Linked DNA regions of Homo sapiens: regions 2, 3 and 4 are each reported to be linked to region 1. Evidence: microRNA targets listed by miRTarBase, many of them from high-throughput screens and not tested one by one. Region 1 holds a microRNA gene; each other region holds the end of a gene's coding sequence.

The links. Region 1 holds the annotated microRNA hsa-miR-877-3p (UCCUCUUCUCCCUCCUCCCAG, at 4,531-4,551, opposite strand). A microRNA usually pairs through its seed, bases 2 to 8, with sites in the 3' UTR of a target mRNA and lowers its output. Matches are read on the target gene's strand: a 7mer-m8 pairs with bases 2 to 8, a 7mer-A1 pairs with bases 2 to 7 and ends in A, and an 8mer does both.
Region 2: miRTarBase lists HMCES as a target of hsa-miR-877-3p. Seed matches in the 3' UTR shown: 7mer-m8 at 1,293-1,299.
Region 3: miRTarBase lists GNG2 as a target of hsa-miR-877-3p. Seed matches in the 3' UTR shown: 8mer at 3,062-3,069.
Region 4: miRTarBase lists PABPN1 as a target of hsa-miR-877-3p. Seed matches in the 3' UTR shown: 7mer-A1 at 1,542-1,548.

The regions. Positions count from the first base shown.
Region 1 is chr6:30,581,832-30,588,947 of GRCh38, reverse strand. MIR877 (microRNA 877) reads right to left here and starts at 4,616; the gene lies at 4,531-4,616. It overlaps ABCF1 (ATP binding cassette subfamily F member 1), which reads right to left. Exons shown (of 25, transcript NM_001025091.2): 9 at 6,441-6,554; 10 at 5,760-5,882; 11 at 5,240-5,340; 12 at 5,058-5,143; 13 at 4,617-4,756; 14 at 4,382-4,530; 15 at 3,605-3,688; 16 at 3,266-3,390; 17 at 2,957-3,069; 18 at 2,643-2,814; 19 at 2,400-2,474; 20 at 2,237-2,307.
Region 2 is chr3:129,303,719-129,310,834 of GRCh38, forward strand. It overlaps HMCES (5-hydroxymethylcytosine binding, ES cell specific), which reads left to right. Exons shown (of 7, transcript NM_020187.3): 7 at 871-2,468. The coding sequence ends at 1,107. Among named protein-coding and RNA genes, the nearest start is that of H1-10-AS1, 9.0 kb to the right of the region's middle. RefSeq lists enhancers at 1,840-2,424, 6,545-6,604 and a cis regulatory region at 1,904-2,404.
Region 3 is chr14:51,965,458-51,972,573 of GRCh38, forward strand. It overlaps GNG2 (G protein subunit gamma 2), which reads left to right. Exons shown (of 4, transcript NM_053064.5): 4 at 1,102-4,338. The coding sequence ends at 1,230. Among named protein-coding and RNA genes, the nearest start is that of RTRAF, 21 kb to the right of the region's middle.
Region 4 is chr14:23,323,780-23,330,895 of GRCh38, forward strand. PABPN1 (poly(A) binding protein nuclear 1) reads left to right here. Exons shown (of 7, transcript NM_004643.4): 5 at 186-273; 6 at 359-510; 7 at 1,468-2,384. The coding sequence ends at 1,507. It overlaps BCL2L2-PABPN1 (BCL2L2-PABPN1 readthrough), which reads left to right. Exons shown (of 8, transcript NM_001387346.1): 7 at 186-273; 8 at 359-2,384. The coding sequence ends at 520. Among named protein-coding and RNA genes, the nearest start is that of PABPN1, 5.9 kb to the left of the region's middle. RefSeq lists a silencer at 4,414-4,503.

The sequences.
Region 1 (7,116 bases):
AAGGGGAGTTAAGCAAAATGGAGGACAAGAGGGACAAGCAGGAGGGACTAACCACAGCCAAAGAACACCTGCTCTCCATACAGCGAGACTCACGAATGGTACATCGTAAGGGCCTCATGTGGCAAGTTTAGTGTTTTGGGGAGAATCTAATAATACCTTTCTAAAGATCTAATCTCTGGATATGAGAAAATGGCCTCTCAACACTGCTAGAGAGAGCAGAAATGGCTACAAACTTTCTAACACACTAGATGGCAATATATTACAAAAGTTCAAATAAAATGGTAGAGTTTGCCGGGCGTGGTGGCTCACACCTGTAATCCCAGCACTCTGGGAGGCCGACGCAGGCAGATCATGAGGTCAGGAGATCAAGACCATCCTGGCTAACACGGTGAAACCATCTCTACTAAAAATACAAAAAATTAGCTGGGCGTGGTAGCACGCGCCTGTTGTCCCAGCTACTCGGGAGGCTAAGGCAGGAGAATCGCGTGAACCCAGGAGACGGAGGTTGCAGTGAGCCAAGACTGTGCCACTGCACTCCAGCCTGGGTGACAGAGTGAGACTCTGTCTCAAAAAAAAAAGGTAGACTCATATGAAATAAGTAATTGCATGGAAAAATGCTTGATATATTTGGAAAAATCTAGCTACACAACAACTCATATGACAGCCCATTTTTGTTAAAAATTATATGCACATTTGCAAAGAAAAAAGGAGAAAGATATCCACTAAAACATTAATACTGGTTATCTCAGCTGGGAGCGGTGGCTCACGCCTGTAATCCCAGCACTTTGGGAGGCTGAGGCGGGCGGATCACAAGGTCAGGAGTTCGAGACCAGCCTGACCAACATGGTGAAACCCTGTCTCTACTAAAAATACAAAAAGTAGCTGGGCATGGTGGGGCGTACCTATAATCCCAGCTATTCAGGAGGCTGAGGCAGGAGAATATCTTGAACCTGGGAGGTGGAGGTTGCAGTGGGCCAAGATCGCACCACTGCACTCCAGGCTGGGCGACAGTGAGACTCCGTCTCAAAACAAAATAACAAAAAAAAAAAACTGGTTATCTCCAGATTTTTCTCTTGACTTAAGCATTTTTTTTTTTTTTTTGACAGAGCCTCACTCTGTCACTTAGACTGGAGTGCAGTGGCACGACCTCGGCTAACTGGAACCTCTGCCCCCTGGACTCAAGCAATTCTCCTACCTCAGCCTCCCGAGTAGCTGGGACTACAGTCGTGCACCAACATACCCAGCTAATTTTTGTATTTTTAGTAGAGATGGGATTTCACCATGTTGCTCAGGCTGGTCTGTTTTTTTTTTTTAGACGGAGTTTTGCTCTTGTTGCCCAGGCTGGAGTGCAATAGCGCAATCTCAGCTCACTGCAACCTCTGCCTCCTGGGTTCAAGTGATTCTCCTGCCTCAGCCTCCCAAAATAGCTGGGATTACAGGCATGTGCAACCACGTCTGGCTAATTTTGTATTTTTAGTAGAGATGGGGTTTCTTCATGTTGGTCTCAAACTCCTGACCTCAGGTGATCTCCCACCTCGGCTTCCCAAAGTGTTGGGATTACAGGTGTGAGCCACCACACTGGGCTCAGGCTGGTTTTTAACTCCTAAGCTCAAGTGATCTGCCTGCCTCAGCCTCCCCCAAAGAGTTGGGATTATAGGCGTGGGCCACCACGCCAGGCCAATTTTTTTTTTTTTTTTTGAGATGGAGTCTCGCTCTGTTGCCCAGGCTGGAGTGCAATGGTGCAATCTCAGCTCACTGCAACCCCCGCCTCCCAGGTTCCAGCAATTCTGCCTCAGCCTCCTGAGTAGCTAGGATATAGGTGCGCGCCACCGCACACGGCTAATTTTTGTATTTTTAGTAGAGGCGGGGTTCACTATGTTGGCTAGGCTGGTCTGGAACTCTTGACCTTAGGTGATCCCTGCTGGGATTATAGGAGTGAGCTACTGTGCCTGGCCCGTTTATGCAATTTTTAATCGTTCTATAAAAGACATATATTTCTTGTATAACCAAAACACGTGGGTGTGCCCCCTAGTTCTATCTTAATTCTCTTAGCTCTCCCCCCTGAACTGATCTAAGCTCTTTCCTCCTCTACTGCCCCTCTTAGGGAAATGAATCATCTATCATGAGTTCTGTATTTAACTCTACATTCTCGAGAGGCTCCCTGATTCCAGCTTCTGGCAAAAGCAGCTGTGTCTTCACATTTCTCATGCTCTCCCTCCTTGGCTCCAGGACTCACCGGTGTCAGCTTGCCAGTCAGCAGCAGGAGTAGCGTACTCTTCCCCACACCATTAGGGCCCACAATGCAAACTGCAAGATGGAAGACAGGTGGTCAAAGAGGTCCCCAGAGACTCTCCCTGTGGCTCCTGCTACACATCCCTGAGGCAACCCCGCCAACTCACTCCTTGAATCCATGTCGATGCCAAAATCCAAGTTCTTAAAGAGTGGTTTCTGTCCCTGGTAGCCGAATGTCACACCTGAAAGCCACGAAAAGAAGCAATTTATATTCTTTTCAGTCCCTGCAAAGTCCCTCTCATGTGCTGGCCTTGGAGAACAGGAGCAATCTCAGCCTTGGTGGAGAATTTAGGGTGCACATACATGCTTCCGGTGCTTCCTGTGGAGCAGCAGAGGCCCGCGGCACTCACCATGCAGACCCAGCACTGGAGGGCTGAGTGGTGGGGGGTCTGGAAAAGTGAAGCGCACAGTGTACTCCTTAGGGCGCTTCAGGAGCTCAGGGGCCTCCTGGGATTCCTCATCTTGGTTTTTCCGTCGGCATTTCTGCTGCTTCCGAGTCAGGGCTTCCTTCGTTTGTTTTTCCTGGAGAGGAAGAGGAAAAAAGAGAAACCTGAGCCCTGCGCGGCAGTCCTTGAAATGTAGGCCAGCGTTCCAGAGTCTCCTTCTTCCTCCACTGCCAGGAGAGAACAGTGGCCCCCAGCCCAGAAGTCCCTCAGGTGCTCACCGCCTGCTTGGTGGACTTCCCGCCTGCCTTCAGCTCCTTCAGCTTTTTCTCTTGCTTCTCATACTGTTTCAGCAGTTCTTTCTGCTTCTGCTGGTACATCTTTTTGAAGGTCACTGGGGCAGAAGAGGGGACCAGGCATCAGTGGTTGCTCCTCTTCCCAGCAAAGGGACAACCAGGGACTGGTGGTGATGGGGTAGGCATCACTGTCTGGAATTCTGACAGGATTCAGTTTATCTAAATAGGCCCTCCCACTCAGGCCTCTTTTCGAGGTTCTATCTCTTCCCTGCATCCACACACAATCCTACTTACTGTAATTGCCCCTATAGTAGTGGAGCCGCTGGGCATCGAGGTGGATGATATCAGTGCAGACATCATCCAAGAAGCCCTGGTCATGGGAGACGATCAGCAAGGTCTTCCGCCAGCCCTGGAGGTAGCTGGGTTTCAGAGAACAGGGTGTAAGTGTCACAGTGGTCAAGTGAGAGAGAATTCAGAGGAAGCAGGCAGACAACGGGGGCTGGGAGGGAAAGGGGGGTCTGAATAGAGCTCCACTCACAGGCACAGTGGAGAAGGGCTAAAGGAAAACAGGGCAGGGAGGGAAGGGGAAGAAAGTGCAGAATGGGAACCAATGATGCAAAGGCCGTAACGCACTTATTAAGCCAGATGACAGCGTTGAGGTCCAGGTGGTTGGTGGGCTCATCCAGCATCAGCAGTGTGGGCTCCATGAACAGTGCCCTAGAGGGTGGGTAGCAGAGGGCAGGGTCAGGGAGAGAAAGATCCTTGCTCAGACAACCCCAGAGAAAACTCGGAGATAGAGCCTGAGACCATGAACACTCCTTCCCAAGCTCTCCTCAGAGAAGTTCTCGGGCAGGATACGGTTTAATTTTTTTGAGACAGGGTCTCGCCCTGTTGCCCAGGCTGTCGTGCAGTGGCACAATAAGGGCTCACTGTAGTCTAAATCTCCCAGGTCTAAGTGATACTTCTACTTCAGCCTCCAGAGTAGCTGTGACCACAGCGTGCGCCACCATATCCAGCTGATCTTTAAATTTTTTGTAGAGACAGGGTCTCCCTATGTTGCCCAGGCTAGGATATGTTTTCTTCCCCCTTTTGTGAAGATAGAGTCTCACTATATTGCCCAGGCTGGTCTCAAACTCCTGGGTTGAAGATAATCCTCCTGCCTCTGCCTTCCAAAGTGCTGGGATTACAGGCGTGACCCATTGCACCCAGCTGCAGGGTATGTTGATGAGAACTCACCACCAAGTAGGGAGATAAATAGAGAAAGACCCTAAGTTCTCACAACACAGATAGTAAGGAGGGAGAGGTAAGCCTTGAGCCTCCCTATTGGCCTTGGAAGAATGAGAAGGGAAAGAGGAAAAGGGCCCCGGTGGTCTGAGGCTGGAAGGGAGGGCAGTGAGGTGAATGGCCCACCTGGCCAGGGAGACACGCATGCGCCAGCCCCCTGAGAACTTCTGTGTGGGTCGATTCTGCATTTCAGGGTCAAAGCCCAGGCCAGCCAGGATCCGCCGTGCTTTGGCCTCTGCAGCTGCCGCCCCAGTGGCCCGCAATTCCTCATACACCTGGGAGGAGGGAGAAGAGGACACACGTCTGAGGGTCCCAGGAACCCCCAAGTCTTTGCCCGTGTCCCCTGCGCCATCTCCTCTACCTTCTCTAGCCTCTCAGCAGCTGTGTCATCCCCTTGTTCCAGCTGTCCCTGAAGCCGCCGCTCCTCTTCCAGCAGCTTCAATCGCTTGGTGTCAGCTCGAAGAACAGCCTGGACTGCTGGTGTCTCATCTGCTACCACCTCTGGGAGGCAGAGGGAGAACAGTCAGGCAGCCTCAAGAGCCAAGAGTCTCATCTTTCTTTCCCTTCAATTACATTTCTGTTTTGCCTGACCCTGCCCAGCTCTTTGTACTTGTTCCAAATAAAACACTCTCAAGTTCCTCATTGACCCTCCCCTCCTTTCCTTAGCATCCCTTTCCCGGTCTCCAGTCTCCCTCCACATCCCTTCCAACTCCATAGCCACAATTTCTTCTATTCTTGGCTGGCTGGCTTTTCTACCCAACTGCCCACCCCACCAAGCCCCTTTTCTCCCCAGTGGTCTCACCCTGCTCACACAGCAACACATCAATGTTGGGAGGGATGCTCAGGGCTCGGTTGGCAATGTGCTTGAGGAGTGTGGTCTTGCCCTTGCTGGGGAATAAAAGCTATTAGGACCTGGCCACCACTGAGAAATCTCTTCTTTTCCCTCCAGGCCCTTTTTTGCCTCCAGCTCCCTCCTCTTCTCACCCATTGGGTCCTACCAGCCCGTAGCGGCGGCCGGCTACAATGTACAGGTCTGCATTGACGAACAGCTCCTTGCCATGAGCGGAGATGCTGAACTTCTCCAGCTGCAGCCATCAGGAAAGAGGTGGCAGAGGGAAGGGATGATCACATGAAAATTCTCCCTTTGGGACAGGAGCGGCCACTTTCTCCCTGCAGGGAAGCCTCTGACAAACCGCTACCTCCAGCATAATCCCCTTCCTCTCCCCACAGCCGGTCCCCGCCCTGTTCGCTGCCTGTAATGGGAGCCCCATGCATCCTCAGCTAGTCTAGTCTGTCCCACACTATTTTCTGCCAAGGGTGGACCCCACTTCTACTGGTTTTTCTATCTTCTTGCTCAAGTTGGCAGAACCTAAGGTGTGGAAAATGCCTCCAATCTTTCTTCCCACTGAACTAACCCATTCACACACCACAGCCACTCAGGGAAGATGAGAGAACTGGCTCTTCCCTAGGTAAGTGGACTGGAAGGGGCCCCTTGAGACCTTACCTTGATGTCAGATGCATTTTCTAACATGGCTTGGCGGGAGGACATCTCCGCCTGGGACACGGAGAAGTCATTTTCAGCTGCATTGGCTGCTTTTAATGAAGCCACTTGGCGCTCATACTCCATCTGAGAAGGTAGGAAAAACTACATTTGAAGCCACAGTCTACCAGTTTCCCATCACCATGAAACAGCCCATGCTGGCTGGGCATGCTGGCTCACGCCTGTAATCCCAGCACTCTGGGAGGCTGAGGTAGGTGGATCTCTTGAGCTCAGGAGTTTGAGACCAGCCTGGCCAACATGCTAAAATACTGTCTCTACAAAAAATACAAAAATTAGCCAGGCATGGTGGTGCCACCCATAGTCTCAGCTATTCGGGAGGCTGAGGTGGGAGGATCACTTGAGCCTGGTAGGTTGAGGCTGCAGTGAACAGAGATCACGTCATTGCACTCCAGCCTGAGTAACAGTGTGAGACCCTGTCTCAAAAAATAAACAAAAAACCCCAAAGTGAAACAGCCCATGTCATCAGACATTGAGATAAGGTTCACAGAACACAATTATTTTCTTACTCCGATTGTTTTACTTGGAGTAGCCCCCAAACCTTTCCTTCGTGTCCCCAATCGCATGTCCCCTAGTTGAAGTATTTAAAAATCCCCTACTTTTGACCGCTAAGAACCAAGGTCTTACCTGTTTTTTCAGCTTTTTCTTCTCCTTTTTGCTAAGATGAGCATAGGGATCATCTGCCTTAGACTCTCCTCCTTCCTCCTCCTCTTCTTCCCCTTCTCCTTCTTCCTCTGAACCCTGTGAGAACCCGGGGATGGTCAAAACTAGGGACTCCTGGCTGGGCGCGGTGGCTCACGCCTGTAATCCCAGCACTTTGGGAAGCCAAAGCGGGCAGATCCCAAGGTCAGGAGATCAAGACCATCCTGGCTAACATGGTGAAACCCCATCTCTACTAAAAATACAAAAAATTAGCCGGACGTGGTGGCGGGCGCCTGTAGTCCCAGCTACTCGGGAGGCTGAGGCAGGAGAATGGTGTGAACCTGGGAGGAGGAGCTTGCAGTGAGCCGAGATCGTGCCACTGCACTCCAGCCTGGGTGACAAAGCAAGACTCCGTCTCAAAAAAAAAAACAACAAAAAAAAACTAGGGACTCCTTCTAGAACTCAGATTTCACATCATCTGCCCCCTGTCCCTGCCCCAGCTCTTTCCTTCACTACTCAGAGTCCTAAAATATCTTGGGATCCTCTCTCATTCTCATACCCAGCCCCTGGTCTCCCTGAGGTCCTTTATTAATTTCTGCTACCAGGAATGGTACAAGACAAATGGTATGAATGTGTATTTATGAAATGTGACAACGCGTTA
Region 2 (7,116 bases), not on the chromosome of region 1:
CATTTCTGCCATGGTCTTTTTTTTTTTCCTTTTTCTTTTTTAGAGACAGGGTCATGCTCTGTTGCCCAGGTTAGACTGCAGTGGCATGATCATAGTTCACTGCAGCCTCGAACTCCTGGGCTCAAATGATCCTCCCACCTCAGCCTCCCAGGTAGCTGGGACTACAAGCGTACACCACCATGCCTGGCTCATTTTTTTAAATTTTTTATAGAGATGGGGTCTTCCTATGTTTCCTAGGCTGGTCTCAAACTCCTGGGCTCAAGCGATCTTCCCACCTCAGCCTCCCAAAGTGCTGGGATTACAGGCATGCACCACTGTACCTAGCCCTGCCATGGTGTTTACTCCAAAAGATGTCACATTCTGGAGAGGTGGCATTGTGCTAATTCAGAACCTTTCAGTTCAGGATTGGGGTGTGATGTAAAGGAAGCAGAAGGGAGTAGTGACAGTCAAGAAGAGGTTGTACAGATTGTCTGCACAAAGAGGAAACAATTTAGCCTTATCACAGTGGCTGTTAGAAATTCTTCTGTATCTCTCCAGTCTCGTTTTCCAACACTCCCCCTGGGTCATGCTGAATTACATTCTTTTCCCTGAGAATGCTTCATTCTCTGCACATTTGGAATGCCTTTCAGCTCTCTTCTCTGGCTGGTCCCACACAATCCTCTGTGAAACCTTCTCTAAGATCTACTTTCCTGCCCCTTAGAGCACACTCCTCTCTTTCCACTCTTGACTGGTGGGCCCCAGCTGGCCCTTAGTAACATTTTCCAAGCCTGGGTAAGTACCTAATGCCTCTTCCCCTGTTTCTTCCCTTGGACTTGGCCTTTTCCCAAAAGCTTGAGCTGTATGGTTTGAGCTTTTTCCTCTTTCTTGTAGGAGCTCAGGGCAAGTGGCAGTAGCCAGAGGATGTTGCAGTGGTTGGCCACAAAGTCACCCAAAAAGGAAGACTCAAAAACACCTCAAAAGGAAGAGTCAGATGTTCCCCAGTGGTCCAGTCAGTTCCTGCAGAAGAGTCCACTCCCCACCAAGAGAGGCACTGCAGGACTCCTAGAGCAATGGCTGAAGCGGGAGAAGGAGGAGGAACCTGTGGCCAAGCGTCCTTACAGCCAGTGACACAGGACTTTCAGAGACCAAGGCCAGGGTCTGCTGCACTGCTGTTCTGATAATAGGTTCTTAACATTGTATGTATATGTGTTTGCTTTGGGAGGAGGTGGCACTGTGTTAGTTGACAGTTGTGGGCTCATGTAGTCTTTTTTGCCATGAGTAGGAGCCCCTAGTGGGGCTGGTGGACAGCTTTGGAAGAGGTGTCCTGCTGCTGTTACCAGCCATGTGGGCCCCATAGGGGCACTGCGCCTGCTGCCCTTTCCTGGCAGGGCTGGTGGAGTCTTCCCTCAAAGCATGCCTTACCCAGCTGGGAAGTCTCTGCCCTGATCTGGTACTCCTTGTAGTAAGCTGTTTTCTGCTCAGCCACTGGGCTCTTTCACTTTTTTAGTTCTTAAAAATTTATTTTTAAGTTCTAAAATAAAATAAAAATAAGTTCTTAAAATTTATTTTTTTCCTGAATAAATTGTATTTGGTAAACTTCTGCCTACATTTTGGAAAGTGATGCTGGTGGGGAAAGTTCTAGATCTTACTTGGTTTCTTCTAGAATCAGTCTTCAGGAATGGATTTTGTCACAAATGGGGCATGGGGGCTTTCTGAGGAAATAACTACAAGTCTTGGTGGTGGGCTCCTTATTATGTTTCTTTTTCTTTCATTCTTGATACTTGGAAGTCGTCTGAATCCTTTAGCTTCAAACCAGCCTGAGTTTGAGTGCTTGCCGTAGCAGAAACTATCCTTACCACAGGTGGGAAGGAAAGGACCAGTTTCTAGCAGTGTCGGGCCACTCCTCTTTCGAACATCCCTAAGGGAGGCATTCACAAAAGCTGTCCCAAGCAGCTGGAAGAAAACAGCTTCCGAGATGACCAGGAGGACTGGGCGGCGCCGAGCCCAGAACGCTCCTGGCGCAGCACCGTTGGCGTTGGCCGATTGCTGCTGGTGGGGGGCGGGGGTGCAGGCCCCAGTCTCTATGCAAATCAGGGATCAGAAGATCGGAATTTCCACCAATCAGCGGGAAGCCTCGGCCCTGTAACTGCTAATGGGAGACAGCAGCGCCACGCCACAGGCTTTTCCCCTGGTTTCGGGAGGGGTGGGGAGCCAGGTGGGGCTCCCGCCCAGACCCTTTCCCGAGGTCCGCCCTCTCCGCCTTTTCTCTAAATTCCTCTTTTGAGTGCCCTCCCTTCCGGTTGAGAGGCGGGGGTTGGCCCGTAGTTGTACACTCAGTCACCCTGCACTGTGGAGGCGGGGGCCTCCCTTGTGGACTGATTTGCGTGGGATTTGGTTGTTTTATTAAGAGATTTAAAAAATTCAGATGACTTACTAGTATGACTGTTTTGTCATATTTGCTTCCAGGTTAATAAATGACAAAAATGAAATTCCCTTTGTTTTTCATTATCATCTCCCCACTGTTTCTCATGGTTGCAAATTAGTTTGGTGAGGTCTTTTCATTTTAACATGAAAGAATATAATGCCTGCAGGGGCTTGTTTCCTTTTCATTCAAGTTTTTATACTTTCATATAAACGTGATGTTAGAAGCAAATCCTGGCCGGGCGAGGTGGCTCACTCCTGTAATCCTAGCACTTTGGGAGGCCAAGGCAGGTGGATCACCTGAGGCCAGGAGTTCAGGACCAGCCTGGCCAACATGGTGAAACCCTGTCTCTACTAAAATACAAAAATTAGCCGGGCATGACGTTGGGTGCCTGTAATTCCAGCTACTTGGGAGACTGAGATAAGAGAATCGCTTGAACCCGGGAGACGGTGGTTGTAGTGAGCCAAGATCACGCCACTGCACTCCAGCCTGGGCAGCTGAGTGAGACTCTGTCTCAGAAAAAAAAAAAAAAAAAAGCAAATCCTTATGTCTGAGAGCATACAGTATCATTTTATGAGTTTCAGGTTTACATAAATGGTATCATCTTGGGCATTCTGCAACTTCTTTTTCTCTAAGTCATCAGCTTTACTAGGTATTGCCAAATTGCTCTCCAAATTTTCACATATTTCAGGGGCATAAGAATCTTCATTTTCCCACCTTGCCAACATTTAATCCTGCTTACTAGAGCAATGGAACATCTTCCCGTCTTTTGTTCTTAGTCAAATCTGGACCAAACAGGGTAGCTCCCACCTGCCTGTCTAGGTGTGGCCAGGTGGAGCCAGGCCCTCTACCAATCTCTGGCGCAGGTGGGGGCAGGCCTAGGATGTGGCCATCTGGCCCCTCTGCTTGGCTCCCAGATAGCAGTCCTTCCCACCTCCCTCCCTTTCACCCTCTAGCAGTGACCAGGCTTGGCTCTAAGTCTTAAGGGTATGCTTCCCTGCACTGTAGCCTTAGAGGAGGCAGAGGGTCCCTGGGATTTCTGGTCCTGATGGATACAGGTGCCTGCCCCTCAGTCCTGTCTGCAAGTCCATCTTGATCCATTGTCTCATGCAAGGCTTGTATGCCTAAAGCCAAACCTGCTTTGTATAGAGGTGGAAACAGACCCAGGCAAGCGCATATGGCTTGACATAGGTAAGTTAAGGACAAGTCCACGGGACTCCTGGCTTGGGAGTAGTGTATCAGCTTGGGGAAGTTGGATGAGATCTTGCTTGTAGCCAAGAAGAGTCTGGAGGGTGGGTGTCGTGGGGGGAACCAGAGGCAGTAAGGGAGGTCTCAGACTCCTAGATTCCTACCTGGGCCTGTAGGAGCTCCCCATTCTTACCTGGGCCTCTTTCTTCTCAACCAGAGTGAGGAACAAGTGATGGGAAGGGTTGAACCTCATTCCCTGGGGATAGGAGCTTTGGCTCAGGCTCCTCTGAGTACTGTCTGCCTGAGAGGGTCCTCAGTACATACAGAACTTTTTTTTTTTTCCGAAACAAGGTCTTGCTCTGTCACCCAGGTTGGAGTGCAGTGGCACGATCTTGGCTCACTGCAACCTCTGCCTCCTGGGCTCAAGTGATTCTCCCATCTCAGCCTCCCAAGTAGCTGGGACTACAGACGCATGCCACCACACCCGGCTAATTTTCATATTTTTTGTAGAGATGGGAGTCTCACTATGTTGTCCAGGCTGATCTCAGACTCCTGGGCTCAAGCAATCCTCCCACCTTGGCTTCCCAAAGTGCTGGGATTAAAGGTGTGAACCACCGCACCATCCAAACCCCTGTCCTACCACAGAAAGTTGTAAAAGGCAGAGTCTTTCACAGTCCCTAACCAAGGCAGCCAGAAGAAGGATAGGGGTTGGGAGAGCCAAGAAGAGGCGAGCAAGAAAAGGAGCCTCTGGGAGGGCATATTTATAAGGTGCACTGGGCAAGGCTCTGGGGTCCTAATGACAACCCTCTATGGAGAGGTTGTTACCCAGGTGTAGACACTCAGCACTGGCAGATAGGTCTCTGGCTTTCACTAGTGTATGGCTACCTTTGGTTGAGTCCCCTTCAGGACATCATCATTTGGGGCTTCTTGTCTTGTGAAGTGGCCAGAAGTGTCCTCATAGAAGATCCAGTTGTGAAATCTCAAAGCTGGGGGACTTCAGGCCACATTTAGCTCACACAGTGATTTTGTTTGGCCCATACAATATATATTTATTTTTTAATTCTGGTAAAATGCATGTGACATAAAATCTGCCATCTTAGCCTTTTTTTTTTTTTTTTTTTTTTTTTTTTTTTGAGACAGAGGTCTTGCTCTGCCCCCAAGGCTGGAGTGCAGTGGCAAGATCTCAGCTCACTGCAACCTCCACCTCCCGAGTTCAAGTGATTCTTCTGCCTCAGCCTCCCGAGTAGCTGGGGCTACAGGTGCCCACCACTATGCTCAGATAATTTTTGTATTTTTAGTAGAGATGGGGTTTGTTGGCCCCATGTTGGCCAGGCTGGTCTCAAACTCCTGAGCTCAGGTGATCTGCCCGCCTCGGCCTCCCAAAGTACTGGGATTACAGGCGTGAGCCACTGTGCCTGGCCAAACATTTTAAAATATACATTCAATACTGTTAATTGTATTCACATTGTTGTGCAACCAATCTCTGAACCTTTTTCATCTTGCAAAACTGAAAGTTAAACAACTCCCCATATTTCCCTCCCCTCAGCCCTTGATAACCACCATTCTACTTTCTATCTCTGAATTTGACTACTCTAGATACCTCATTTAAGTGGAATCATGCAGTGTTTGTCTTTTTGTCACTGGCTATTTTCACTCAGCATAATGTTCTCAAGATTCATCCATGTTGTAGCATGGGTCAGAATTTCCTTCCTTTTTAAGGCCAAATAATATTCCATTGTATGGGTAGATCACATATTTAAAAATCTACTTATCTGTCAATGGACCCTTGGGCTGCTTCCACCTCTTGGCTATTGTGAATAGTGCTACTATGAACATGGATGTGCTCTTCTCATCACTGCTTTCCAGTCTTTGGGGCATTTACCCATGAGTGGAATTGCTGGATTGCATAGTAATTATATTTAATTTTTTGAGAAACTGCCATGCTGTTTTCCATAGCGGTTGGACCATTTTACATTCCTTCCAACAGTGCAAAAGTGTTCCAGTTTCCCCACATCCTTGCCAACACTTTCTATGTTCTGTGTTTTTTTTTGTTTGTTTGTTTGCTTGTTTTTTGTTTTTTGAGACAGGGTCTGGCTCTGTTGCCCAGGCTGGAGTGCAGTGGCTCGATCTTGGCTCACTGCAGTCTCCATCTCCTGGGCTCAAGCGATTCTCCCACCTCAGCCTCCTGAGTAGCTGGGATTAAAGGCACACACCACCATGCCCAGCTAATTTTTGTATTTTTTGTAGAGATGGGAGTCTCGTTATATTACCTAGGCTGGTCTTGAACTCCTGGGCTCTAGTGATCCTCCCACCTTGGCCTCCCAAAGTGCTGGGATTATAGGTGTAAGTCACAATGCCCAGCCCTGTTTTTTCATAGTAGCCATTCTAATGGGTATGGGGTGTTTTTTAAGTCCATATTTTAAAATAATGGGAAATTTCAGAAAATAGTTTAGTTTCCACTTTCAAAAATTTTGAGGAGGTGCCTCCGACAACCAGGCCCCATGTAGGACCACTGCTGCACTGAGGTACCCTACCCCATTCCTCCCTGCATGGCCAGACCACTCCCAGCCTCCAGAGAGGGACTTGGAAACTTTCAGGAGGTGCTTCTTCTAACATTATTTGGAAAACTGGGAAGCTCTGAAAACAATCAGTAAGAGCTGGGTAGTCACTGCCCCTCTTCAGGTGGAGTCTGTGTCTTCCAGTTGGCTAGAATGCTCTACCTGGTCTGGAAGCCCTCCTCACCACCCCCCACACCCATTTTTAACTGTGGAATTGGGAGGGCTTTGTAACATGCCAACTTGGCCTGGCTGAACCATATTTTCCAGAACTCCCTGACTAGTATATTTTCCATCAGGGTGGGCCAGGAGGCAGATTCTCATCAGATTTGGAAGGAAGCAACCATTTGGACTGCTGATCTGCTGACTCACCTGATTGGCATGAAGCAGCACCTGGACCTGCAATTGCTGTGCTTTTCCCGGACTCTCCTTCAGTTTTTTCTGACTCCTGGGGCAGGTGTGTGCACGTCTAGCTCTGTGGCTAAGGGTTCCAGCTTCTACCTTCATCAGTGAGGTCAGAGACAAAAAGAATAGACACAGGTTTCAGTCTGTTGTCACGGGTCCTCCCTGTGCTAGTGGGGTTTCAGTATGCTCATGTGCTCATGGTGTTCCCCTCCTGACCACCTGCCTGTGGACTTCAAGCTCCGTCAGTCTTGGAGATACAGCCTTACAGAAACTGCTTAATCAGCCCCTACAATTGTGCAAGCCAGTTCCCTGGTTTTCCTTCTCCATTGAGTTGACATGGGAACCTGAAGCCCTGCTGACTTCTCCGGCCTCATGCCCTGTCACATTGCCCCCACTGCTTTTACCACTACACCTTTCACCATTCCCCAAACCCAGCAGCCTGTGCTACTGTGGGGCTTCCAGTCTGGAATGTCCCTACCAGGAACTTTCTGGTTTATCTGTCCTTCTCCTGCAAGTGACTGAGTCCCATCGCTGCCTCTGCTCCCATTCACCCCTAGCTTGGCACAG
Region 3 (7,116 bases), not on the chromosome of region 1:
CTCTAATGTAGTAAAAATTTCCTCTGGTGAAGATGGTTGAAGGAAGGTACTACAGGGAACTCATAACAAGCAGCTACAAATATGTTGTAAGAAATGACAGCATCGCCAGAATCAGTGACGACCTCCCAGTGAAATATCACTAAAGGGCACAATGCTTGGTTAAAGTCACAGGTATAAATTTTAATATATATGAAGTATAAAAATATGTTCTATATAGTGTGTGTATACATAGATATATCTCCTGCTGCATCTGCTTAAAAAGGGAAATTGACATGGTTTTAGGCATCCCTAGCACAATTCCTGAAGCAGAGAGTCACGACTACAAAATGATAATAATGGCTAGCCTGTGTGGAAAGCTTGCTATGTGCCAGACACTAAATGATTTACAGGGATTTTTTCATTTAACCCTTGTTACCAGGGCTGGGACCAGGGTGGGGCAATGAGATATCGGAGCACAAAAGTGAAGGAGGGCCGGGCACAGTGGCTCACGTCTGTAATCCCAGCACTTTCGGAAGCCGAGACAGGTGGATCACTTGAGTCCAGGAGTTCAAGACCAGCCTGGCCAACGTGGTGAAACCCTGTCTCTACCAAAAGTACAAAAAATTAGCCAGGCACCATGGCACACACCTGTAGTCCCAGCTACTAGGGTGGCTGAGGCAAGATAATTGCTTGAACCCAGGAGGCAGAGGTTGCAGTGAGCCAAGATCAAGCCACTGCACTCCAGCCTGGGCAACAGAGCGAGACTGCATCTCAAAAAAAAAAAAAAAAAAAAAAAAAAAACAAATGAAGGAGACAGCCACCTGCGGGGCTATGGAAGTGCAGGGTTGACACCTGCATGCCCCTGCCAGCGAGTGCCTCCTTCGGTTCTGCACCCTAAGTGCCTCACTCACCTTAACCTAGTCCCAGACTTGCTGGCAACAATCCTGTAAGGTCAGTGTCGTCAACTTTCTTCTTTGCAGATGAGGAAGCAGAAGCTTTTAGAGGCTGAGTATCTTGCTTCATGGAGCAAGGATTTGATGCCAGGACATTGGGCTCTAAAGCCTTGGGCCTTGACTGACTGTACCAGACTCCAGTGTTGGTTGTTTTTGTCTCCCTTTCCAGGTGTCCAAGGCAGCTGCAGATTTGATGGCCTACTGTGAAGCACATGCCAAGGAAGACCCCCTCCTGACCCCTGTTCCGGCTTCAGAAAACCCGTTTAGGGAGAAGAAGTTTTTCTGTGCCATCCTTTAAGTCTTTGAGAGGGGCCTGAAGAGCCTCCGGGCTCCTGGGACATTGATGTAGAGTTTTTAGTGAAGTGGGCACCTTTCTAGTCCACGGCATTTGAAGAGAGCGAGGAGAACCATTCTGGAAACTCTAGGCTATGCATGTTTAAAGATCTGGTCCCCTTTATGAGAATGCAAGCCGATCCACATCCTGACTTAAGAGATCTGATTCTGACGAACTGCCTGGAGGAGGGGAATATATAAAAATAAAATTGGTGTCACTTCTTTTCTGCTATCCCCCAGCCCCCCCCCCAAAATCCTCATGTTTCTGCTTCATATTTTGAAAAATAACAATTAAAACAGACAGCTGTACTGAGGTAAGATATGTGTGACCTTCTTGGAATGAATATTGTCTTTAGAATACCCTTTGATAAGCTGAGCTGTCCCGTGTAGATGCAATTCGGTTTAATGGCATTGATGTATAGTCACTGTGCCTTTCTTTTTCTTTCTTCCTTCTCCTCTACCCCTCCTTCCACCCCTCCCCATTAGAGTAGTGTGGAGATAAGGCTGGACTGGTCTATCAGATTGAACTCCAAGAATGATCACACAAAATGTTTAGGGAGATGTTCCCCGTGGTGTATCCTCATGGTAACAACGACAAAAAATGCCGGTTGTCTGTGTTCTCTTTTCACTATTCCTAACATGTGTACATGATAGCTTTGATTCTGCAAGTAAAAGTAAATCCTGTGTTGTGACTGGTGCTTTCATATATTTGTGACAATTTTTGAGTAATATTGCATGAAAATGTCCCTATGTTACATCCATTCAGAAGTTTTGTTGTTTTACTCTAAAGCTGGGAAAGGAAATGAGAGGGAAAAGACCCCGGAGAGGGAAGAAAATCTCAGTATTTTGAAAATTGAGATTACTTCAGAGCCTTAGCCACACCTAAAATACCTCCTAGTTAATAGTGGTATAAATGCCTCTTCAATACGTTTTCCAGAATCCAAAGCATTTTGGTTTATCCAGGACCCAGGGCAGCACAGCTGTCACCAAGCAGGAGAGTTAAGGATTCACCATGAGCTGGGAAATGCTTTTGCCATGAGTATGAGCAAATTCCCTCTTTCCCTGAATCATGGACATTCTAGATTAAAAGAACATTTTTTTGTGCTCTTAACAAGAAAACCATGGCCCTCCTTTGTTCAAGTATCAGAAGAAATAAACCCACAGCTCCAGAGAAGGTGACCATTCTCAGAACTCCAGCTATTCACTCTCCAGGGAGAAGGACCTCAAATCGCCACTCTTTGGGCGGCAGGTGCGGTCCCCACGGCCGGCTCTACGAGGAAGAGTTCTGGCTCTTTTGTCCACTGAGATGGTCTTGGTTTTTCACTTAACAAATTTTTTAATGGAATCTTTGTTTTTGTTCTCCATCTTGTTTGTTAGAGTCTCTCGGCCTTTATTTACAAATTCCTTGCAACTAGAGCGCTCCTTCCCCAAGATATGGTAGTGAGAGTAATTTTTCATTGTAGCTGTAGTCTCCATCAGTAACAGCAGGCCCTGGAAGACTTGATCACCTTTTTCTGTGTCATTTTCAGTCAAAGAGGGCCTCTCTTACATCTTGTTTGCTTTCAAATCCCCAAATATCATCTCCATCTCCCAATTAATTTTATTGTCTCTTTCCTCTCTATTCGCTTTCTCCTGTTTTTTTTTTAAAAAAAAAGCATGAAAAAGGAAGAGAAAAAGTTTGATATGCCAAGGACAGATTTTGAAACAGACTTGGTAAATGTTTTCCTTAGCTCCTTCATGGGCATGCTGGTGAAAGAATAAATACATCCAATTAAAGCTCATGCTGGGGTCGGGGAGAAGAGGATACTGAAACATTTGTGAAATGTATGAATGCACTTCTGTAACCAGATACTTCTGTTCTTCTGTTCAAATTGTGGGGTTTTTGTTACAGTTAGGACGCCCATGAAGATTTAGGGGTGAAAAAAACAGCAGAGTATTTATTAAACTACAGCATTGTACAATTAGCTTAGTAACACTATGGAATAAGCTAAAACATATCACAGTTTTTACATGGGCCAAAACATGAATTGAGTATGTGGTCACATGAAAACACGGATGAATGAATAAAACACTCTTTGGTGGTGACTGAGGCATCATTAGAAGGCCCAGACGATTTCCACTATTCACAGCATTTCCTTTTCTCAGAAGGACTCTTTATATTTCCATGTAAATCTAGATCTTTGGAGCAATTAAGATGGAATTACAATTTCTAGGGAGCATTTTAAGGAAAATGTTTTGGCTTTTTCATAATTTTATGTCTTACAGTATGGAATTATAATACGAAAATCTTTATATGAGTTTTGGCTTCTTGGTATTTGTACTTATTCAGGGGAAAAAGTCTTTCGATTACTTATGCCTCTATAGAGCTTAATTTCTTGAGAAATTCAACAGTCATTTTCACCAGCATAATTTTATCTTAAGGAATAACTAATAGGAAAAGTCAGCTTAATTATTTAAGGCCCTAGTTTCTACATATAATATATTCGATAGAAATGAAAATCTGCCGTGGAATTAACTAATAAGTAGTAACAATAAACTTCATATTTAGAATGCAAAGTCTATAAAGAATAATTTTACATGATCCTCAATATCAACTCCAGTTTAAAAAGTGTTATTTTTAAAACATTTGAAACCAAGTACTGTTTAATTTCAATCAGAAGATGCAAATACATACTTTGATCTATGTTTGATTTTGCTAATAATATTTGAAGGAGATTGCCTACCAAGGACAAAACAATAAATTTAAAAATCAAACGATTTCTCCATACGCTCATAGTCACATATGGAATTTTGAGAAAATAAAGCATGCTGTCTTTAGGAATTTTTATACTTCTTTGTCTTTCTTCCTTAATATTTGCTTCTAGCTGCTCTTGGCAATGATGAATTGTTATGTATGCATTAATGTTTTGCAGCCCAAAAGTTGTTCACATTTTTCCTATATAAGATCTGTGGAGTGTGTGTTTCAAAGAGAGAACTACAGAAATGTTAAAGCAGGAAAACCTGAATGTGATGTGCACATTTTCATCCCACATGGACAATGTATGTGTTTTAATAAATGGAATTTTCAGATTCATTTCATATGCAGTCAATTTCATTGTGACGGCCACTGATTCTGTGGTCAATTTGAGAAGGATCTGATGGTATGAATGGATGAGGAAATAGGAATCCATTGATTTTCTTTAGGATTTTGTTAATAGAGATGTCCGAAAGAAGAAAAAACTCACTTGACACTCTAAAAGCATTTCTTACTAGGTCTGTACATCTTGGGTACAGCCTTTGGGGACAGAGAAAGGTGGGGGCTGTGAGGAGAGCCCAGGGCTCTGATAGGGTGGAGTATGCAGACAGAGGAGCTGTATTTACACTTTCACTTGCTGCAGGTATGCCACAGTGGGCTTTTTCCCTTATGAAAAATAAAGACTGAACAACAGAAGTGCTGTTCTCTGTAGCTATCTGTGATTTAAAAGGAGTACAGGAGAAGCTAAGTCCTTAGAACTCTAGATGCAGCTGCTCCTTGGAGATCTTCTTAGTCGAGAAAGACTTCTGAATGTTCCTCAGATTATGCCAGTAACAGACCCTGTTAGTAAAGAAGGAAACACTGGATCTCCTGGGACTTGTGCCAGCAACAGCAGCATCTTTAAACCACGGATGAAGGGGGCCACTTGGAGTTTGCACACTAGTGCTCCACTGACATCAGTGTTTCTCAGACTGTGGTCCATGGACCACTTGCTCCAGGAGTATTAATACCTGGAATGCCTCTTTACAAAGCGGATCCTGAGCTACCCACGAACTCAGAATCCCTGGCAGTGACTCAAGAACGTGCATTCTGTTACATGCTATAGTCTGAGGACCACTACAGTATTTATGACAGCTAGCTTTTCATACTGCCAAAGGAAAGGCACAAACAACTCATAAATATTCTCGCTCTTCTTCCCACAGCCCCCAGAAGTGGCTGCCTAGGCATGAACATGTAACTGAAGGGTGAGAATCTAGCCAGCAACTAGACATGCTACACTGAGGAAGACGCAGCTGGGCTGTGACTCTGCTCCTGTTTTGTTGAGCCCCTGTGGGAGGACTGCCTCCAGTTCTCATTCTTTAATAAGCTGGTCACATTGTAGATGGCACTTAGAATGACAGAGGGAATTGGAGCTGGGTCAGCTCCAATCCACAAATTGCAAATAATTTGCCAAGGGAAATCCCTTTCCCTTCGGTTCTGCCCCAAATCTACATTTTCTTCTATTTAGAACCAGGAGACTCAGGCAGAATTTATTTTAATGAAGAAGGCCATGGGCTCCTGGGCCTTTCCTCAGCAAGAACTACTGCTGTTTCTCTCTGGAAGTCATAAGAAAAGCCGGGAGCCGGGTATTGCATCTCCACAATGAAGCAACAGAAAGACGGGGCCTGGGGAGCTCAGTCCACACTGTGCTCGAGCATTAGCATGCACTAGAGAACCAGAACTAGGCTCCAGCGCTCCCATGCGACCTTGGGCAAGTCCTTTGACCTCTCCTGCTTTAAAGTGGGTACAAGAATGCCTGATTCATTTATCTCACAAAATGGTTAAAAACAAATGAAAGAGGATGGGCACAGTGCTCACGCCTATAATCCCAGCGCTTTGGAAGGCTGAGGCAGGTGGATCACTTGAGGTCAGAAGTTCAGCCTGGCCAACACGGTGAAACCCTGTCTCTACTAAAAATACAAAAATTAGCCAAGTGTGGTGGTGGGCACCTGTAATCCCAGCTACTTGGAAGGCTGAGGCGTGAGAATTGCTTGAATCGGGGAAGCAGAGGTTGTAGTGAGCCAAGATCACGCCACTGCACTCCAGCCTGGGTGACAGAGCGTGATTCCATCTCAAAAAAAAAAAAAAAAGAAAAGAAAAATGAAAGAGGTAAAGGGGCATCACGAAGGCAGAGGTGGTAAAGAACCATTAGAAACTACTTGACGGCAACCTTCGAAGAAAGGAAACCGCTAGATAGCTCCTGCTCACCTCTTAACTCACCTCCTTTCTCTCTAGCCCCCAAATGCCCTGGTTGAGACCCTCAGTGTCTCATGTCTGAATTCCCATCACACCAGCTGGTATGGGCATTCTGATGCTCATCTCCTCCCACTTTCACCCAGTTGACCCTGAGTATTCATTAGTCAGGACTTCTTTGATTGCAAGTGACAGAAACCTAATGCCCCAAAATAGGTCCCACTTCAAGCCCAGCTGGATCCAGATGCTTAGAGGATGTCATGGAATGTCCCTGTCATCCCTTGGCTAGGCTATTCTCTGTGCTGGTTTAATTCTCAGACTCTTGCCCCGCAGCATCAAGATGGTGTCAGCAGGCCCAGGTTTATATCTCAACAGTTTAGTAATCAAGGAAGAAAGATAACAACAGCTCTAGCAGAAGCCTCTGGCTATATCCCTGGAACCCTTCCTAAGACACTATTGGCTAGATCTGGTTCCTGTGCTCGCCCACCCCTGGACCTAGGGATAGAGGTAGAGTCACTGGGCCATGTGGGCAGAACAGTGGTTCTAAGGAAATTGAAGTCCTTTTGCTACAGGAGGCAGGATTGAAAGTTAAAGGCAAAAAACAACTGATGCCAACCACATCTTAACAGATTTATTGATGTTACCTCATCTTTCACCATGTTCAGAAACCCAAGGTTCTCTGGTTCATGGTGCTCTTTGTCAACCACATCATGTCCAATCTCAACTACCTGGCTCTCAAGGCCCTTGAGAGGCCCCACTTGGCTAATCCCATCTTGCCATCCAAACCCTCTTTTCCAGTTCATCCTGTCTCCTTCAGTGTGCTGTGAGTTCATCCCACTTCCCTGTCTGCTGCTTTTTACATTTTTTTTAGACAGAGTCTCGCTC
Region 4 (7,116 bases), not on the chromosome of region 1:
TCAAAGAGTAGCTGGAAATTTTAAAATTTAAATGATTTCGAATGATTGAAATTTTCCATTTAGAAGAATTTTGACAAATAAAAAATATAACTGCATTGTAGCCCAAAACGAAGCATGCCTGCAGGTTGAATTTGACCTGTGAGGTATTTGTAACCTCAGAGAGATACAATGACAATTCTTTTCAGGTTTGCGTATATAGAGTTCTCAGACAAAGAGTCAGTGAGGACTTCCTTGGCCTTAGATGAGTCCCTATTTAGAGGAAGGCAAATCAAGGTAAGCCTATGTCCATTGCTGTTCTAGTTGTGTATAAACTCTCCAGGTTGCCTTTAAGGCTATCATTTGTTCATCTCTGACTCAGGTGATCCCAAAACGAACCAACAGACCAGGCATCAGCACAACAGACCGGGGTTTTCCACGAGCCCGCTACCGCGCCCGGACCACCAACTACAACAGCTCCCGCTCTCGATTCTACAGTGGTTTTAACAGCAGGCCCCGGGGTCGCGTCTACAGGTCAGGATAGATGGGCTGCTCCTCTTTCCCCCGCCTCCCGTGAGCCCCGTATGCTTCCTCCTCTCTGGTCTGAGGAACCTCCCTCCCCCCACCCCTCCCCGTGGTCTTCAGGAACTTTGTCTCCTGCCTGTGCAGGTTGAGGAAGGTAGTTGCAGGCCAGGCCAGAAGGCCAGCCTCATCATCTTTTCTGCAGTAGAAATTGGTGATAAGGGCTGCATCCCTCCCTTGGTTCAAAGAGGCTTCCACCCCCAGCCTTTTTTTTCTTGGGAGTTGGTGGCATTTGAAGGTGTTTGCGGACAAAACTGGGAGGAACAGGGCCTCCAGGCAGTGAAAGCACTGCTTGGACATTTGTTACTTTTTTCGGAGTTAGGGAGGGATTGAAGACTGAACCTCCCTTGGAAGAATACCAGAGGCTAGCTAGTTGATCCTCCCCAACAGCCTTGTGGGAGGATTTTGAGATACTTATTCTTTATTTGAGCCAGTCTTGCAAGGTTAACTTCTCACTGGGCCTAGTGTGGTGCCCAGGTTTTTGCCTTGCTTCACTTCTGTCTCTACATTTAAATAGACGGGTTAGGCATATAAACCTTGGCTTTTCATAAGCTCTACCTGCCTATCCCCAGGAGTTAGGGAGGATCTATTTGTGATGGCCTAGGGTTTAAGAGCTGTGGAGGACTGAAAACTGGATAAAAAGGGGGTCCTTTTCCTTGCCCCTGTCTCTCACTCAGATGCGCTTCTTTTTCGCCACTGTTTGGCAGTTTTCTGTTAAGCCCCCCTCCCCCTGCCCCAGTTCTCCAGGTGCGTTACTATTTCTGGGATCATGGGGTCAGTTTTAGGACACTTGAACACTTCTTTTCCCCCCTTCCCTTCACAGTAACTGGGGCAGGGGCCTACGGGGAGGGGCTTGTACTGAACTATCTAGTGATCACGTTAACACCTAACTCTCCTTCTTTCTTCCAGGGGCCGGGCTAGAGCGACATCATGGTATTCCCCTTACTAAAAAAAGTGTGTATTAGGAGGAGAGAGAGGAAAAAAAGAGGAAAGAAGGAAAAAAAAAAGAATTAAAAAAAAAAAAAAGAAAAACAGAAGATGACCTTGATGGAAAAAAAATATTTTTTAAAAAAAAGATATACTGTGGAAGGGGGGAGAATCCCATAACTAACTGCTGAGGAGGGACCTGCTTTGGGGAGTAGGGGAAGGCCCAGGGAGTGGGGCAGGGGGCTGCTTATTCACTCTGGGGATTCGCCATGGACACGTCTCAACTGCGCAAGCTGCTGCCCATGTTTCCCTGCCCCACTTCACCCCCTTGGGGGCTGCTCAAGGGTAGGTGGGCGTGGGTGGTAGGAGGTTTTTTTTTTTACCCAGGGCTCTGGAAGGACACCAAACTGTTCTGCTTGTTACCTTCCCTCCGTCTTCTCCTCGCCTTTCACAGTCCCCTCCTGCCTGCTCCTGTCCAGCCAGGTCTACCACCCACCCCACCCCTCTTCTCCGGCTCCCTGCCCCTCCAGATTGCCTGGTGATCTATTTTGTTTCCTTTTGTGTTTCTTTTTCTGTTTTGAGTGTCTTTCTTTGCAGGTTTCTGTAGCCGGAAGATCTCCGTTCCGCTCCCAGCGGCTCCAGTGTAAATTCCCCTTCCCCCTGGGGAAATGCACTACCTTGTTTTGGGGGGTTTAGGGGTGTTTTTGTTTTTCAGTTGTTTTGTTTTTTTGTTTTTTTTTTTTTTCCTTTGCCTTTTTTCCCTTTTATTTGGAGGGAATGGGAGGAAGTGGGAACAGGGAGGTGGGAGGTGGATTTTGTTTATTTTTTTAGCTCATTTCCAGGGGTGGGAATTTTTTTTTAATATGTGTCATGAATAAAGTTGTTTTTGAAAATAAAAATTGTTTGGCCTTTTGGGTGTAAGGATTATTTATCTTCCTATTCTCTCTTAGATCGCAGATGGCTATTAATTCTGCCTTGTGGTAGAAGTACTGGTGTTGTGGAAGGGAGGTTGCCACTTGTGAATTAAGGAGTAGGAATTACATTACAACTAGCAGGAACATTATGTGTTTAGTTGAGAATGATAGGTTTTCTGGATAACATGTAACCCTGATTGGCATTTGAGAGAGAAATAAGCCTGGGAAAGTAAAAGAATAGCTGAATTGGGCCGGGCATGGTGGCTCACTGCTACAATCCCAGGACTTTGGGAGGCTGAGGTGGGCAGATCACGAGGTCAGGAGATCAAGACCATCTTGGCTAACATGGCGAAACCCCACCTCTACTAAAAATACAGAAAATTAGCCTGACGAGGTGGCGGGTGCCTGTGGTCCCAGCTACTCGGGAGGCTGAGCCAGGAGAATGGCGTGAACCCAGGAGGTGGAGCTTGCAGTGAGCCAAGTTCACACCACTGCACTCCAGCCTGGGTGACAGAGTGAAACTGTCTCAAAATAAAAAAAGGAATAGCCGAATTACTGACCTAATGGCGCTTTTGTGTGCTCCTGATACAGCTTACGTGCAAATGAACTATCCATGCCTGCAGCCCTAGAGCTTTGGATTGGGGTCTGGGTAACCTTGTCTTTGGGGTCTCGCTATGTTGACCAAGCAATCTTCCCATCTTAGCCTCCCAAAGTATTGGGATTACAAGTGTGAACCACTGCACCCAGCTACCTTTTCTACCTCAAGGTGGGCCCAAGAAATGCAGAAGACAAAATACACTTAGCTAAGAGACAATCGGAAAGCTTGTTTTTCCAACCATGCAGTAACCATTTAATGTGTCCAGCTAACTTATATTAATTGGATCATTTATTTTTTTGAGATGGTCTTGCTTTGTCACCCAGGCTGGAGTGCAGTGGCTCACTGCAGCCTCAACCTCCCGGGCTCAAGTGATCCTCCCACCTCAGTGTCCTACATAGCTGTGACTATAGGTGCCTGCCTTCACACTTGGCTAATTTTTTGTAGAGACAGTTTTGCTGTGTTGCCCAGGCTGTCCCAAACTCCTGAGCTCAAGCAGTCCTCCTGGCTTGGCCTTCCTATAGGCGTGAGCCACAGCTCCTGGCCAGGATTAGTTTATTAGGACTTCACAACTGGCTTTCACTGTTTTCATATCTAAATTTTGTCTTGGGCATCCTAATTTCTCCATTTTTTATTCCAGTGTCAGATTGGTCTTAAAACTTGAACACTACATCACTAGCCAGGTTGAACCTTCAGACTTCATTACCTATAGAATTTCTTAGTATTTCAACCTTACTATTTTTTCATTTACTTCTCAGGATGTTTTGTTCACAATTGCCTCTGACCTGGATGCTCTTCAAAAATCATATGTTAAAGAAATGGCTCTGTGGCCGGGCGCAGTGGCTCACACCTGCAGTCTCAGCACTTTGGGAGGCAGAGGTGGGCGGATCACTTGAGGTCAGGAGTTTGAGACCAGCCTGGCCAACATGGTGAAATCCCGTCTCTACTAAAAATACAAAAATTAGCCAGGTGTGGTGGCATGCACCTGTAGTCCCAGCTACTCTGGAGGCTAAGGCAGGAGAATCGTTTGAACATAGGAGGTGGAGATTGAGGTGAGCTGAGACTCAGCCACTGCACTTCCAGCCTGGGTGACAGAGCGAGACTCTGTCTCAAAACAAACAAAACAAAAAACTCTGTTATATCTGAAGCCTTAACCCACCTCTCAAATTGCAGTATTTTCTAAAATCTCATGTCAGTGTTATCCACCACATATTTTAGGATTTGGTCATTTATTCTACTTTCTGTTATGGGTTAGGCATTTGAGGTCTATCTTTTCTCCTAACTAGATTCACCTAAAATAGTGCCGTGATCTCTGTGGCTTCTGCAGAGGCTGATTAGTGAGGGTCTGGATAGTGTTCAATATAAACTTTTTACTGGAAGAATGAAACAGCCTAAGTGACTTGTTGCTGTTAATGCTGTGATGGTCTCATCTGTCCACCAGGGGGCACTAAATGGCTGGCTCTAAAAGATCCCCATAAATTGTTGGGTATTGGAGGGTGAATCATGTTTTGACCCTTCTCTGGTTTAGTTTTCCATATTCAGTCAATTCTACCATATCTTGTCTGTTCTCTCTATTCCTACTTTCACTGCTTGAGTAACTCCCCATCATCATTGCAGGGGTCCTGGCAGATGTATTGGCTTCAAATTTTTTTTTGAAAAATAAAAATTCCTAAAAAAAGTACTTTAAAAGATAGGGTCTCGCTATGTTGGCCAAGTTGATCTTGAACTCTTGGCCTCAAGCAATCCTCCTGCCTCGGCCTCCCAAAGTGCTAGGTTTATAGGCGTAAGCTACCATGCTCAGCCTCCAAACTTCTTATTGCCAAAAAAAGCCCTCTATGATGCCACCAATAAGTACAAAGTCCAAACACAAGCATGGAACTACAACCTTTTTCAATCTGATCCTGATTACATTTCTCTTCCAGATCCTGCCCTACACCTGATGTACTATGCATTGTAGTTGTTATTTATTTTCATGTATCCCTCATGCTGTTCCCTCTAGCCTGCTATGCTCATTCCAACTCTTCTATGAAAATCACGCATATCCTTCCAAGTGTAAGCCAGGTACAACAGACATGAAGCCTTTCCTGATTTCCAAGTCAGAAGTAATCACTCCTGCAGTCAGGACAAACTGTTCCTATCCCTGTTTAATATTTACTTTGTGGTTTTATAATGAAACTAACTACATTTCTGTTTTCCCACTAGAATGCAAGCTTCTTCTTTTTTTTTTTTTTTTTTTTTTTTTTTTTTTTGAGACGGAGTCTCGCTCTGTCGCCCAGGCTGGCCTGCGGACTGCAGTGGCGGGATCTCGGCTCACTGCAAGCTCCGCTTCCCGGGTTCACGCCATTCTCCTGCCTCAGCCTCCCGAGTAGCTGGGACTACAGGCGCCCGCCACCGCGCCCGGCTAATTTTTTGTATTTTTAGTAGAGACGGGGTTTCACCTTGTTAGCCAGGATGGTCTCGATCTCCTGACCTCATGATCCACCCGCCTCGGCCTCCCAAAGTGCTGGGATTACAGGCGTGAGCCACCGCGCCCGGCCGAATGCAAGCTTCTTGAGGGCATCAATTGTGACTTTGTGTCTGCCTCACAGGGCCTGCCATTTAGTAGGTGCCCAAAAGTTGCTTATTCACCCTGGGCTTGCCTTTCCTGTCCTGGAGAAGGCGGTAACAACAATAGTGTTGCCTTTTACCTGGAGCTGGTAGTTTTCTTCCTCTTTTTTTTTTTTTTTCCTGAGACGGAGTTTCACTCTGTCGCCCAAGCTGGAGTGCAGTGGTGCCATCTCAGCTCACTGCAACCTCCACCTCCCAGGTTCAAGCAATTCTCCTGCCTCAGCCTCCTGAGTAGCTAGGATTACAGGCATGCGCCACATGCCTGGCTAATTTTTTGTATTTTTAGTAGAGACGGGGTTTCAACATGTTGGTCAGGCTGGTCTCGATCTCCTGATCTCGTGGTTAACCCACCTCGGCCTCCCAAAGTGCTGGGATTACAAGCGTGAGCCACCATGCCCGGCCTTTAGTTTTATTCTTATAAGAGTCAGACTATTTTACTTAAAAGAGACTAGGTTTAGAGGAAGAAGCATGGAAAGAAAGTTACTTTCCTCGGGCAAGCTTGGTTATTTTTGGTGGATGATTTCTGTCAGTCACTCCTGATCGGCTCTCTGTTAACTGAGGGATAGAAATGAGCCCAATCTCACTGGAGTTCCATGGGAAGAAAGAGACTGGGAGAGCCTGTGTATAAAACCTGTCTGGGGTGAGGGTCTGTGAGTCAGAGATCCTTAGAGGGCCTTTGGATGATGCAAAATAAACCGAGGCAAGCCAGTGCTTTTTAAGGTAGGATTTGCCCAATCCGACGTTGGCAATGGAGAAAAGAAACAGTTGGTGGGTTTTTACAATAATATTGCTGCTTTCCTTGTTTTTATGTATGGTTAGAATGAGCAGCCTTTCTCAAATTATGATCACATTTTATTATTATTATTATTTTTTGAGATGGAATCTTGCTCTGTCGCCTAGGCTGGAGTGCAGTGGCACGATCTCGGCTCACTGCAACCTCTGCCTCCTGGGTTCAAGCGATTTTCCTGCCTCAGCCTCCCGAGTAGCTGGAATTACAGGTGTGTGCCACCACGCCAGGCTAATTTTTGTATTTTTAGTACAGACGGGGTTTCACCATGGCTGGTCTTGAACTCCCGACCTCATGATCTGCCTGCCTCGGCCTCCCAAAGTGCTGGGATTACAGGCATGAGCCACTGCACCCGGCCTTATTATTATTTTTTAATGGAGACAAGGTCTTGCTCTGTTGCTCAGAATGAGCAACAAATTCATATCTCACTGAAACCTCAAACTCCTGGGCTTGAGCCATCCTTCCACCTTAGCCTCCCAAGTATCTGAGACCACAGGCACATACCACCATGCCTGGCTAATTTTTTGTTTTTTTATTATTTATTTATTTTTTTGAGATGGAGTCTTGCTCTGTCACCCAGGCTGGAGAGCAATGGAGCGATCTTGGCTCACTGCAACCTCAGTCTCCCGGGTTCCAGCAATTCTCCTGCCTCAGCCCCCCAAGTAGCTGGGACTACAGCCGTGCACCACCAAGCTCGTCTAATTTTTTTATTTTTTAGTAGAGATGGC